2 linked regions of the Homo sapiens genome follow. The protein of the gene in region 2 purifies or fractionates together with the protein of the main gene of each other region. This does not show direct contact. Each region holds a gene or a part of one and is shown on either strand. Other genes may lie near its edges.

Region 1 (7,199 bases), on a different chromosome or scaffold from region 2:
AGATTAATGTCCTGCTCCAAATTCAGGCCTTTTCAGAAAACATAAAGCTTCCCGCTTTCTATTTGTGAAAAAGTAACCTCGTTGCTTTACATAAACGAAAATCACCTCATTTAATATGCCTTTTGTGTACATGTAAATTAAAACGTTATCACTAGCAGTAATTTTTAAACTTCTGGATTAATACTTTAATACTTCTCTCCTCCTTAAAAATTATCTAAAATTTCTTCTTGATTTGCCAACACCTCACACTTTAAGTAATTTTCATAAGGATTCTGGAGAAAAATATTTTCACTAGAAAAAAAACAAAACAAAACAGAACACTTCCAGACGTTATCCAGAAGACAAAAGTTTGCTCACATCATACTGTCTCTAGAAAGCCCTTTCTAGGGTATCTGTGGCAACAGGATACAGACGTCTTTTGTTTCTTTCTTCCTTTACTGAAATGCTCAAAACTTTCCAACAGTCACTCTCACCATCCCTGGAGTTGAGAGTTTCTATAATTGATTCTCTTCCACTTACAATGACAATTTAACCCACCCCAACTGGCAGGTTTTAAAATCAGTCAAAACTAAGAATTGTGGAACAATGTGGCTGACAAGCCACCATTCTTATTTGCAAAAACTGACAGAATCTGGGGAATGGGAAGGAAAGAGGGTGTAGGTCTGTGTAAAACCCCCAACGAAAAGTCACAGTAACATGAAGAAAGGCAGGAATTCTCCACTTCGTTTGGATGGCAGAAAATCAACGGGCTCTTTGTAGAATAAACACACACACACAAACACACACGCACAAATATTGATAATATTGAGCCTCAACAACTCATGATCTCATCCTGAGACAAACCTCATACAACTATTTGTAGCCTCCAGCATACAGCAGATAGGGAAAATTTTTCAACAGGGAAAATACTGTCCATTAACTTGAATTATTCTGCAAATTAGGACAAGACCCATTGTGCAATTCAGTTCAACAGTTTGGCTCAGTATGAGAAGGAAGAGGCAGTGGATTCTTTGAGAGCTTAAGGGAAGGAGGCCACATGCCATCAGAGAAGCAGGAAAGATAAGCAGATAGACATGTCTTCTCAGGGCCACCACCCATTCAGATGCCCCAGCTGCGCGCTGTCCAGTCGAAATATTGTACAAAATATATTACACAAAATAAGCCATACGTGTCATTGTATGTATGTATGTATGTACGCATGTATGTGGAGAGGGAGTCTCGCTCTGTTGCCCAGGGAGGAGTGCAGTGGCACAATCTCGGCTCACTGCAACCTCTGCCTCCCGGTTCAAACGATTCTCCTGCCTCAGCCTCCCCAGTAGCTGGGATTACAGGCGCCTGCCACCACGCCTGGCTGATTTTTGTATTTTTACTAGAGACGGGGTTTCTCCATGTTGGCCAGGCTGGTCTCGGAATTCCTGACCTCAGGTGATCCACACACCTCGGCCTCCCAAAGTGCTGGGATTACAGACGTTGAGCCACCCCGCCCGGCCCGTATATGTCATTTTAAATTTCCAAATAGCCACACTAAAAAAAGAGAAAAAGAAAAGCAGTGAGATTAACTTTTGTTTTTTTATTTGTTTGTTTTGAGACAGTGTCCCAGGCTGGAGCACAAAGGCACAATCTCAGCTCACCGAAGCCTCAATCTCCTGGGCTCAAGGGATTCTCCCACCCCAGCCTTCCGAGTAGCAGATTCTCCCACCTCAGCTTCCCGAGTAGCTGACTACCGGCGTGCGCCACCACGCCCAGTTAATTTTTTGTATTTTTTGTAGAGACAGGGGTCTCACTATGTTGCTGAGGCTGGTCTTGAACTCCTGCACTCAAACGATCCTCCTGCCTCAGCCTCCCAAAGTTTTGGGATGACAGGCATGAGCCACTGCATCCTGCCAAGATTAATTTTAATGATCTATTTTCGTTAATCCAATTTGTCCCAAACATGACCATCTCAACATGCATTTAAGTATAAAAGATTACCAATGACATCTTTTACTTTCTTTCTCATCCGAAGTTTTTAAAATCAGATGTACGTTTCACAGCTGGGACCGCAACTGAAACTGGCCCCATTTCGTGGGCTCCATCGTCCCAAACGGCGGGGGGTCAGTGGCCACCGTACTGGGCATGGCAAGGTCCTTCGTGGTTCAATACCGAACACGGGCAACTCCTTTTCATCCCTAGACAGGTGGGGACAGGAAAATACCCAACTCCTGGCAAATCCACCCAGTCCCGACTCAGGCTCGACCTCGGAGGCCCCGGCCGGGCCTCAGGCGGCCCCACCCCTTTGCTGCCCAGGCCTGACCGGAAGCCCCGCTAATGGGAACTGACAGGTCCCGGTCCCGGTCCTCCCGGGCGGCGCCCCCGCCTCCGCGGACCCCAAGGCCTCTCCCCGCCCGGCCCAGGGCTGCACCCCGCGCGAAAAAATAAAAAAATCAGAAAGGGGGGTAAAAAAGACGGATGAGCCCCAAATTAATGCGCCAAGCTCTCCGCCGGCATCCTTCCCGCCCCCAAGCCCAAGACGCTGAATCGGGATCCCCGCGATCACCAGAGCAGACAGAAATAACCAAAAAAAAAATTTTTTTTTAGTGAAATCACCAAAAAGGAGACATTTTGCCGAGGGAATGGCAGGCAGAAGTGGGTCACGTTATTCTCGGTGGGGGAAGGGGACGGCGCGCCCACCCGTCCCTCCGCGCGCACAGGCCCCGGCCCGGCTCCTCTCAGGGTCCTCTCGGGTCCGCGGGCCCCGGACCCCGCCGCCCCTCCCCCGCCCCGCCCGCCGTCCGTTAACGGCCGCGCGCGAGCACGAGGCGGCGGCGCGCGCGGGGGGGGCGGGGGCGCGGGCGCGCGCGTTTCCTTCATGCCCGGCGGCGTCCCCCTACCCCTACCTGTGGGGACGACGCGCCGGCCGGCGGCAGAAGGCAGGCGGAGGCGGGCGGCGGCAGGCGGGCAGCGGTGGCGGCGGCGGCGGCGGGGCCTGGGTGCTCGCTCGCAGCTCTCCCTCGGTTAGCGGCGGCGGCAGCGGCTCGGTTGCGCCCGCGGCGGCGCCCTCTAGCGGCGGGAGGCCGCGCTTGCCGCCCGGGAGACGCCGCCATTGGCTGCGCCGGAGCTACGGGCTGGGGGCGGTGGCGCCACGTCTGACTGGGGGCAGGGACCTGGGCGCGCCGTTCAATCCGGAGCCCCGGCGTCGACGCGCGGCCCACTGGGTGAGCCAATGGGAAGGCCACGTTGCGCACTGGACGCGCTCGGACTCAAGACTGATTAACCAGCACCGGGGTTTTCTGGGGCCTCGCCTGGGCCGCGGCCTGAGCAGAAGCGCTAGGAGGTAGAACAGCGTCCAGCGGGGAGAGGAGCTAGAGTCGGCATCGGGAAGCCCACCCTGGAGCCTGCTTAGCTTGACGAGCCCTCAACCGGGGCGCCCTGCTCTGCGAAGAGTAACCCTGCATCCTCAGAACAACCGTGATTGTCTTCATTCCTACATATGAGGAACGGAGGCGCGGAGCCCCACGGCAGCCGGGGATCCAAAGACAGCCTCCCTCCAGTTCCATCTGCCGGCTCTTGGAAGGCCTGGATCCCTGTCCTTCAGGGCCCAGCCCAAATGCCGCCTCGTCCATCTGCATTTTACGGCCAGGTGCCCCGCTGCGGGCACGGCTTCTTGTAAAATGCTCAGCTCAGCAGTGGGCGAGGCAGGGTCCCTGCCCCATGGGATGGAGGGCGGAGATCAGGACCCACAAGAGCCCAAAGAAGACCATTTTGGTCGGTGAAGACCAAAGAAATTCAAGCAGGAGGATGTGACAGGAGCTTTTGGGAAAGCCTCTGAGGAGGTGACAGCCATGCAACCGTGTTCGGGGAAGTGTGCCGCAGGCAGAGGGGAAATGAGTGCAAAAGCCCTGAAGCTGGAGTTCGGTGTCTGGATAACAGGAAAGGCCTGCATAGCTGATGTGTGCCAGAGGGGAGAAAGATCTGTGACACAGGGGGGCCGCCATGTTTAATTTGGAGTTTTGTGTGGAAGGGGGTCATTCATTGAGTCTGAATTGGGAGTTCCGAGGTCTCATTTATATTTTAGAAAGTTCTCTCCTGCTACTATGCAGAGATTGGGCTGTAGGAGAGACAAGAGGGGAAGTGGGGACTCTAGCTACAGTAGCTCTTCCAGGGGTCTGGGTGACGTAGATTTACAAACCAGAGTATTAGCTCAGGCTGCCATGACAAAATACCCCAGACCAGGCAGCTTAGACAACAGGAATTTATTTTCTCACAGTTTTAGAGGCTGCAAATCTAAGGTCTGGGTGCCGGCAGGGCTGGTTTCTGGTGAGGCCTCTCTCCCTGGCTTGCAAACAGCTGCCTTCTCACTGTGTCCTCCTATGACCTTTTCTCTGTGAGCAGGAATCCCTGGTGTGTCTTCCTTTTTCTTACAAGAACAACAATTTTACTAGATTAGGGCCCCACCCTATGACTTCATTTAACCCCAGTGACTACCTAAAAGGCCGTATTCAAATAGTCGTATTAGGCCAGGCGCAGTGGCTCACGCCTGTAATTCTAGCACTTTGGGAAGCCGAGGCAGATGGATTGCCTGAGCTCAGGAGTTGGAGACCAGCCTGGGCAACACAATGAGACCCCGTCTTTACTAAAATACAAAAAATTAGCCGGGCATGGCGACGTGCACATGTAATCCCAGCTACTCGGGAGGCTGAGGCAGGAGAATCGCTTGAACCTGGGAGGCAGAGGTTGCAGTGAGCTGAGATCGCGCCATTGCACTCCATATTGGGCGAGAGAGAGAGTCTGTACCAAAAAAAAAAAAAAAAGTATAAGGGTCCTATGACTTCATTTAACCCTAATGACTGCCTAATATGCCTAATAGCCATATTAGGGTTAGAGCTTCAACATACGGACTCCGGGGTGGGTATGTGCGGAGCGGGGAGCGTTTCAGTCCGTAACACCAGGTAAGTGCTGCAACAGATATTGGAGAGCTGATGGGCTGTGGTTTTAGGGAAGCTCCTCTAAGAAAGGGGTGGATTATACCGGGCGCACTGGCTCACATCTATAATCCCAGCACTTTGGGAGGCCGAGGCAGGGGGATCACGAGGTCAGAAGTTCAAGACCAGCTTGGCCAACATGGTGAAACCCTGTCTCTACTAAAAATACAAAAATTAGCCAAGCATGGAGGCAGGCGCCTGTAATCCCAGCTCCTGGGGAGGCTGAGGCAGGAGAATCACTTGAACCTGGGAGGTGGAGGTTGTGGTGAGTCGAGATCGCGCCACTGTACTCCAGCCTGGGCGACACAGCGAGACTCCGTCTCAAAACAAAATAAGAAAAAGAAAGGGGTGGATTATTCTCGTGACCAGAGGCTGCTCATCATTCAGGCCTCAACTACAGTAGCCTCTCTTGGAGAGGCCTTCACTGACAGCCCATCTAAAAGTTGCTCACTAACACAGCGCCCTATCTGATCTTCCAAGCAGTCATCATGATCTGAAATGACCTCGTCTAGTCCTGTTGCCAGAAGGCTCAGGAGGTCTCTGGATACTGGTGACACCCCAGCCCCAGCCAGTTTCCAGGTTCTTGACACCTTGGAGAGAAAGAATTCAAGAATGAGTTGAATGAAGCAAAGGGCAAGAAGGTTTTTTTTTGTTGTTTGTTGTTTTTGTTTTTTTTGAGACAGGATCTCAGTCTGTCACCCAGGCTGGAGTACAGAGGCGCAATCATGGCTCACTGCAGTCTTGATCTCCCGGGCTCGGGTGATTCCCGCCACCTCAGCTTCCTGAGCAGCTGGGACTAGTACCACACCGGCTAAGTTTTTGGGGTTTTTTTTGTTTTTGTAGAGACAGGGTTTTGCCATGTTGCCCAGGCTGGTCCCAAACTCCTGGGCTCAAGCAGTCCTCCCACCTTGACCTCCCAAAGTGCTGGCATTACAGTTGTAAGACACTGCACCGAGCTGCAAGAAGCTTTTATTGCAAAGTGAACATACACATTTAAGAGAGAAGTGCAGGCATGCCCGTGAGAATGAGTCTTGCACAATGGAGTTTGGGTTCCTAATTTTATGGGTGTTTCTTTTAGTTACAGGATGGAATTATCGTTAGGCATTCTGGAAAGGGAGGGGATTTCAGGGACCTCCACCTCAATTACTGTCTCCTTTCTTCCTTATCTGGGTTTGCTGGAAGAAGCATGGACATGTCACCCTGGCCAGAGTTTTGGCCATCTTCTCTCCCTTGGGTTTTCTGTTATCCTATGGTTTATTTGCCTAGTTCCTGTTTCAGCTGTTTGGGTTTTTCCATCCTCCTGTGACCACCCAGTGCTGTTCCTGTCTCAGGCATTTGGGCGCTTGTTTGTGGTCGGCCTCCAACCCTACAGGAGAGCAGAGACTCTGCTTTTTTTGTTTTGTTTTGTTTTTGCTTTTTGAGACAGAGTTTTGCTCTTGTTGCCCAGGCTGGAGTGCAATACATAATCTTGGCTCACTGCAACCTCTGCCTCCCAGGTTGAAGCGATTCTCCTGCCTCAGCCTCCCAAGTAGCTTGGATTACAGGCGTGCGCCGCCACCTCACCCGGCTGATTTTTGTATTTTTAGTAGAGACGGGGTTTCTCCATGTTGGTCAGGCTGGTCTTGAACTCCTGACCTCAGGTGATCCACCTACCTCGGCCTTCCAAAGTATTGGGATTACAGGCATGAGCCACCACGCCTGGCCCAAACCAGTTTCTTTTGTCCTATATTCTCAGCCCCTTGATAGTAGGTAGCACCCCTTAAATACTTCTGGAGTGGATGTCTCAAGCAAGCCTGAGGCTAAGATCTGATTAGAAGCGTGAGTAGGAGATATCCTAATGCAGTGGTGCATGTAGAAAAGAAAAAAGCCTGATGCGGTGGCTCCCGCCTGTAATCACAACACTGGGAGGCTGAGGTGGGCGGATCGCTTGAGGCCAGGAGTTCAAGACCTGCCTGGCCAACATGGCGGAACCACATCTGTACTAAAAATACAAAAATTAGCCAGGCGTTGTGGCGGGTGCCTGTAATCCCAGCTACTTGGAAGGCTGAGGCACTCATGCCACTGCACTCCAGCCTGGGTGACAGAGTGAGATTCCATCTCAAAAAAAAAAAAAAAAAAAAAAGCTCTTGTGATTGCATTGGGTCCACCTGGATAACCCAAGATGGTCTCTTCATCTCAAGATTGTAACTTAATCCCAATAGCAAACTCCCTTTTGCTAGGTAACAGGTTACTGGGGTC
Region 2 (6,912 bases):
TGCAGATGCTGTGTGCTGGGCACTGTTGGGGGTGGTATGGCGACAGGCAATGGGCTGTGCCCAAGGGGTAAGCTGGGAGAGAAGCAGAATGGGGCCTGGCACTGGGGGAGGCCCCTGCCGCCCCGCCCCCACCCTCACATGGCACAGCCCCCTGAAGCCAACCCAGGCAGCAGCGTCACACCCTGTCACGTGCCCGTCACTCTCCCTGCTGTCTGGGAGGGTGGGGACACCCAGTGGCCTTGGCCAAGCACAGGCTGCAGGCGCACAAGGAGTCAGCAGGGGTGGTGTCAGCTCTCACCGGAGGGGGCCACAGGGGCTGCGTCTTCCGGTTCTTCCCACGGGTCCTGGAAGGAGCCAGAGACCATCAGGCCTTGGGGAAATAGGAGGGGCAGGACCCCACTGCCACCCGGAGCCCCGAGGAGAGGTGGCGCTCACCCAGGAGCCCAGCAGCTGGGAGTGAGTCTCCTGCACACTGTGGACAAAGTCTCTTCCTTTTGACCGGAGCAGGAACTGACAGCTGCAGATGCCCCAGAGATGTAGGTTGGGGTTCAGGGCCCCCACTGTCTGCTTCAAGCCCTTGGATCCCCGGGGGTCAGGGTTGGGCCCCCTCCTCCCGCCACCCTGCAGTGCCCGTGGGCATGGGCGAGGAGGGCTGCTGTGGAGACGCCTCCATGGGGCTTCAGGGTAGTCCCATGGGAGAGGCATTTCTGCCCCCAGCAGCCCTTCCGAAAAGGGGCCCTCACAGGAAAAGTGGGTACCTGCCGGCCAGAAGCACCTCCCACAGAAGGGCCTCCCCAGTGCCCTGTGGGGCCAGGGAGGCAAAGCAGGCCTGGTGTTGGGTCGACAGAGCCGTTGGGGGCCCACCCCCTACCCATGATCAGACCCGGGGCCCCGCAGGGGCAGCCGGTACCTGGGGAACCACTTGGCATGCTCCGTCCAGGGGTCGTCCCCGCGCTTCCAGCTCTGCAGGCCCCCATAGCAGAAGAAGCACCTCACCTTGTCCTGATGGCCTGGGGTGCGGAGAGATGCTGGCCCCAGCCAAGTCCCACCCAGTCCCCGGGCCCCCGGTGTGTCCTTCCAAGGCTATGAGAGCTTCAGCTGGAGGGGAGCTCCCAGGTGGCAAGAAGGAGGAGGGGGTGGGCAGGGGGCTTGGTGGGGGATGTCACTTGTACCTCATTAGCATCAAAGGTGAAAAGGGGACAAGGGTGACTGGGGTGCCGGCCAGGATGGGCGAGAATGTTCAGGAAAGGACTGAGCTGGCATTTGCATTGTTCCCAGAGTGAGCAGTGGGGGCCCCCCAGGGCTTGGTACATCTATAGCCCTGGGGCTTCAGGAGCCAGAAGGGCCCCTCCCCAGGTCTCTGCTTCCCCAAGATGGATTCCCAGTGAGAAGAAGAAGGGAGGCTGCCCTAGAAGGCCAGTCTGGGGCCAGGCTTGCTTTTAGGAACTCATGCCTCCCTTTGGGGGTGGGGGACCCGTCATCTCTCTACCTCCTGGCGACCCCGTCCCCTCATCGGCATCCATGCGATACGTCACCTGCCACTGACATCACAGGTTTGGGCTGCATCGGGCACTGGACCTCTACCAGCCCCAAAGACCCCGGCTCTGCACCTGCCATGCCTCTTGCCTGGCCTTTGCCTCCTGAGCCTTGGACTTCCAGGGAGGTGGGTGAGCTGGGCCTGCCCCTTCACGCCACGGCTTCTGACTGTCCCAGCCACTGTCCCCCCGACCAGCTGTCTTAAGTTGGTCCAGCCTTACCAGGATGGTGCCCCGCCAGAGCCCACTGCTGACAATGACCATGGCTGTGCCAGTATTTGTAAAGCCCTCGGTGGGCCCTGCTGCCCTGTCCTTCAGCCAGGAAGTGGCAGAGCTGGGACCTGAACTCAGGTCTGACCACATGGTCTGCAGCTGTAGGGCAGAGGAGCAGGCCCGGGCCAAGACTAGGATAGGTACTCCGGGGACTTGATTCAGTTGGGGAAGACCAGACAGTAGCTGCAGGTTGGGGCCTGGAGAAATTCCCCACAGGCTGAGCATCCAGGACCTTCTGGCTGACCACTGCCTGCCTTGGTCACCCTGATCCTGTTCTTTAAACATCTCCTCTCCCTGTGCAGAACAGCAGCGGGGAAGGTGAGGGCCCCAGGCAATGTCAGCCCCACCCACTTCTATCACAAAGGGGTACTTGTGCACCAAGCTGGCGGCCTCCACAGCTGAGACCCTCAGACTGTGGCCAGAGGCAGCCCCTCCTCACATCCCACGGTCTGAAACACTCAGCCAGCAGAGACTCCGGGGGAGGGTGTCAGGCACGAGCCCATGGGCACTGGAGGGGCTTGCAGGACCACTGCTCCGTCATCAGGCCAGACCCTTCCTGTTGGGGGATGGATGCTACGGAGGAGGCAGAGCCCTGGGCTGGAAGGGTCCAGAATCGTGCCCAGGCCCACGGCAGGAAGGCCCCCCCGCCCGGGACTGACCTGTGTGGAAGAAGCCGGCAGCAGCCAGCAGCTCGGGTGGCACCTCAGCAGTCAGCGGCCAGTCATAGAAGGAGGCCAGACGCAACTCCTCAGAGCCCATGCCGGGGAAGGCAGGCCCCCTGGACAAGGTGGCCCCGGCGCCCTCCTCCTCTTCCTCCTCTGTCAGGGGCCGCAGCTGGCCCAGGATCTGCCCATCCACGTGGTCCCAGGCTCTGCAGGTGTCCAGGCCTAGGACAGGGCTGCCCAGAGAGCGGGGTCCACAGCGCTCCTGCGTGGGACCATCACCGGCTGCCCAGTGGCTCGGCTGTGGTCCACGGTGCAGGCACTTGGCACTGTCTTTAGGTCCCATGGAGGGAACACTGGCTCTGACCAGGTTTGCAGCAGAAATGGGGGCTGATGGCCAATCTCAGAATATGCCCAGCTGGCCCTTCTGGAGCTCCTGACCCCCGGGGCCCACCCTGGGGACAGCAGGGATAGGCACAGGCCTGCCACCAGACACCCTGGGAGGGGAGTATCCCAGGGCCCACAGCTTTCTGGAAGTGGCCAGGGTGGCCTCTGGGGTCACATGCTCTGTGCAGCGGGGGCGTGTCACGGGGCCCCTGGCAGGGTTGCGGATGCCGCTGACTGCACGTGGGCAGGCCACGTCTCTCTGAACAAGACGGGAAGGAACTGAGCATGGAGACCCCTCCCCAGGCTGGTGTCTGCCCCAGGGCTGTGGGGGAGGGGTTGGGGAGCTGGAGATGATGGCTCCAAGGTCAGGCGCCCAGGGCAGCCTCCGGAAGCAGAGAAGGCTCAAGGAAGGACATGTGAGCTGTGCTGCCTGTGCAGGCAGGGGCCGTGACCTCCCACCTTGCGGGGGTGACTCTAGCCTCACAGGGGCCTAGGGCTGCGTCACGCAGAGCAGGGAGGCAGGTCACCCGGCTGTTCTCTGAAACATCCCTCTGCCCCAAGGGGCCTCTGCAGGTCTGGGAGCAGCTCTTGTCCTCAGGCCAGGAAGATCAGAGCAAAAAGAAGGGCCCGAGCTGCCCTCACCTCCCGCTCCCCCTTCCCCCATCTCCCTCCACCTCCCTCCATACCAGCCTCCCCAGGTAGCCAAGGGAGAGGCTCTGATGCCCCCAAAAGAGGAGTACTCAGTGTTGGCACTGGAATCGGAGTTCCTGAGGTCTGCTGTGACCCTGGCTGCCGGTCCAAGCTCCACACTGTGCCACACTGCCAAACCCCACAGTGAGGGAACAGGGAGGAGGACTTAACCCCAGAGAAGCCAGGGGCAGAACAGGAACCCCAGGGACACCTGGGCGGGACAAAAAGGACAGCTGGATGGGGCCCAGACTTCGACACCCCCCAACCCCCGACTGAGCCCTCAACCCCAGCAAACCCAGCTCATCCACCCGGCTGGCCCTAAAAGCCCCCTGTCATCCTTCAGCCACTCTCCCCTGCTGTTCCGTCCTGGATGGGAGCGTGCAGGCTCACAGAGTTTGGAAGAATAAAGAGGAGTCGCACGCTGCAGGGCCGCTGGTTGCCACGGGGAGCGCAGGTGGGCAGGAGAGGGTTAGCTGCAGTGAAAACCGTCCCTGAGCTCACCTGGAAGCCTGGCCCGTTCTCTTCCCACTGCTGAGCCGCATAGACCCAGCTGCTGCCCACCACACTTTCACACCTGCCCCCCGACCCCCACTCACGGCGGGGGCTGGGGCTGCACCCGCCCTCCCAGGAGGCCTCTGGTGACTGTTCTGGTCATACTCAGGCCAGTGTTGCCAGGCCCCAGCGAGACCCCCAACCCTTTCCTATGCAAGGCCCAGAGCCACCTGGTTTCCTGCAGAAATCAAAGTGAAGGGTGTGGCTGGAAACCCCTCCCAGGCTCTTAAGGCCTCTGGGGTGTCTGCAGGCCCTGCTGAGGATAGAGCCCAGAAGCCAGGGCTGCAGGGCGCAGAGGGAGAGGCAGCAGGAAGCTCAGGGGCATAGGAGGGGAGGGCTGTCGGGAAAGGGCCTGAGGGCCAGCAAAGGAGTTAGGCTAGACACAAGGTAGAACTTCCCAGTGTGTTTTCTGGGATGATCTCAGGGTACCTCGCCTTCGCCCCCTCTCTGTCCTCCAGTGCCCACCTCGCCTTCGCCCCCTCTCTGTCCTCCAGTGCCCACCTCGCCTTCACCCCCTCTCTGTCCTCCAGCGCCCACCTCGCCTTTGCCCCCTCTCTGTCCTCCAGCGTCCACCACACCTTCGCCCCCTCCCTGTCCTCCAGCGACCACCTCGCCTTCACCCCCACGTCCTCCAGCGCCCACCTCGCCTTCGCCCCCTCCCTGTCCTCCACCGCCCCCTCAGCACAGCGGTTACCTTTGGTCACTTCAGCAAAACCCCGGGTGTGGGCCTGGGGCCCTTTCAGGAGGACGTGGGCCTCAAGCTGGGTGGATTTGCTGCCTGGTTCCCAGTCTGCCCGCAGTGCACCGGGGAGGTGGGAAGAGGGGCCACTGTCTCCAGCCTGCTTCTTCCAGGGGAGAGACACATGCAGCACCCAGGTTTGCTCTGAACTCTCAAGCTGGGGACCCTCTGAGGTGGGCAGGCAGCAGAGGCCGCTGCCATGGCCTGTTATGGGACCCTCTCTTCCCACTGCTTGGGGCTCGGAGAGGAGACAAGGTTGGTGTCACTCCTGGAAGTGGAAGGAAAGGCCCTGGGGCCCACTGGGGAGTTGGGGTTAGCTGGGCCATAAGCCGAGCCCCGCTCCTCCGGTGGGATCGCCCCGAGGTCCTGTGCACCTCCAAACCCAGCAGGTGTTTCTCCACACGCATCGCAGTGCCATCCCAGTGCGTAACTGTGCAGGGAGCTGCTGAGGGGCGCTCAGCTGCTTTGCCGTGTGCGGCCGGCCCAAAATTCTCAAAACAAGGACTATCCATATGTTGCTTATTTAATTAAATAAAAAGAAATAAGGAGCTAAAAATAATGGTCATGTGCCTATTCCAGAAGTGTCGGGAATACTGGGAGTATAAAGAAAGCGAAGTTCGATGTCTGAGCCATCCCTGTGGGCACCGGGGCGTGTGTGTCTGGATTTGGCAGTTGCCCTGCAGCTTTGCAGGATGATACCGTGGGGTGGGGCAGGGTGCATGGACACCTCTAGGCTTCTTTGCAATTCTGCATCTACAATGATTTCCAAATAAAAGCTGGGAAAACCCATATGCCTTCTCCCCGCTGAGCGGTAAGCACTGCTGTTACTATTTTGCTGTTTTCTTCCAAACATACCCTAAACATCTTTATTTGCTATTTGCCCATTTTTCAAAATGAATAAACATCTGTCAGTACCTAGGAGGGCCCCCTGTGATGCCCCCTGGATCCCTGTGAGTCTTTACAATTAAGTCTCCCAGCTGAGAAGATGTCAGATGGGGAGCCGTGGGGAGAGGCCTCCAGGTCAGTGAGAAAAAAGCCCTGGGCCCAGCAGGGACTCCTAGAAGCCCCAAGACCCCACAGTGACTGGGATTTGCAGCTCCCTGCAAGATTCAGAACCAGCAGGAGTTGGAGGAGAATATCCCCAAATTGCCCCCCACAGTGATGGGGACTAGCCTATTAAGGCAGGAAAAGAGGACCGTCGTCAGGGCCGGGCTCAGCATTCTCCACCAACAGCTCACACCTCCCCCAAAGCCACCCAGCCATCCGGGAAAGTCCACGCCCTGAAACTGCGTGTGGGTGCCACACGAATGAGCCCTGCTCTACTCCATGAAGCCTGGGGTTGGGGCCACGTGGGCAGATAGGTGGACCCGCTGGGCACAGGGTTCGTCTTCCTGTGCAGAGATGGGGGGTCTCAGGAGGGGCCTCCAGAGAAGAAAACATCTCCCCCAGGGCTCATGCCTGACCTTTCACCGCCAGAGCCTCACAGTCTCCTCCTGTTAACTTTTCCTCTGGGAATGCTTTGTGAGTCATTAACACTTTAGTATAAACAAGACTCTCAACTTTCTCAGAAGGAAGTTAGTGGGATTTTTAGACGGGGATGGGATCAGCCTGGGATAAGAGGGCTGAGTCAGAGCCTGTGGAGGTCCAAATGCTCTGAGCAGAAGGTGAAACCGTCAGAGGCATGTGAACCAGAGCAGCTCCGTGTTGAACGGGAGCTGGGTAAAATGGTAAAATGAGGCTGAGACCCACCGGGCTGCATTCCCAGACGGTGAAGGCATTTTAAGTCGCAGGATGAGACAGGAGGTCAGCACAAAATACAGGTCACAAAGACCTTGCTGATAAAACAGGTCGTGGCAAAGAAGCCGACAAAAACCCACCAAAACCAGGATGGTCACGAGAGTGACCTCTGGACGTCCTCACTCTCCACCAGCGCCAGGACAGTTTACAAATGCCATAGCAACATCAGGAAGTTACCCTAGATGGTCTAAAAAGGGGAGGCATGAATAATCCACCCCTTGTTTAGCGTATCATCAAGAGATAACCAAAAAAGTGGGCAACCAGCAGCCCTCAGGGC

The links. Proteins that work in one complex are often made in the same cells at the same time.
Region 1: the proteins of BIRC7 (region 2) and ZC3H7A purify together in Homo sapiens (affinity purification with mass spectrometry; 3 studies listed by BioGRID and IntAct, with this or other methods). This does not show direct contact.

What each region holds. Positions count from the first base shown.
Region 1 is NC_000016.10:11,794,248-11,801,446, forward strand, and holds the start of ZC3H7A (zinc finger CCCH domain-containing protein 7A), read right to left. Parts: upstream 3,012-7,199; 5' UTR 2,877-3,011; intron 2,282-2,876; exon of another isoform or gene 1,972-2,281; intron 1-1,971. UniProt on the Homo sapiens protein: May be a specific regulator of miRNA biogenesis. Binds to microRNAs MIR7-1, MIR16-2 and MIR29A hairpins recognizing the 3'-ATA(A/T)-5' motif in the apical loop.
Region 2 is NC_000020.11:63,232,001-63,238,912, reverse strand, and holds the start of BIRC7 (baculoviral IAP repeat-containing protein 7), read right to left. Parts: upstream 3,009-6,912; 5' UTR 2,817-3,008; coding exon 2,468-2,816; exon of another isoform or gene 1,011-2,467; coding exon 911-1,010; intron 518-910; coding exon 436-517; intron 345-435; coding exon 299-344; intron 135-298; exon of another isoform or gene 71-134; intron 1-70.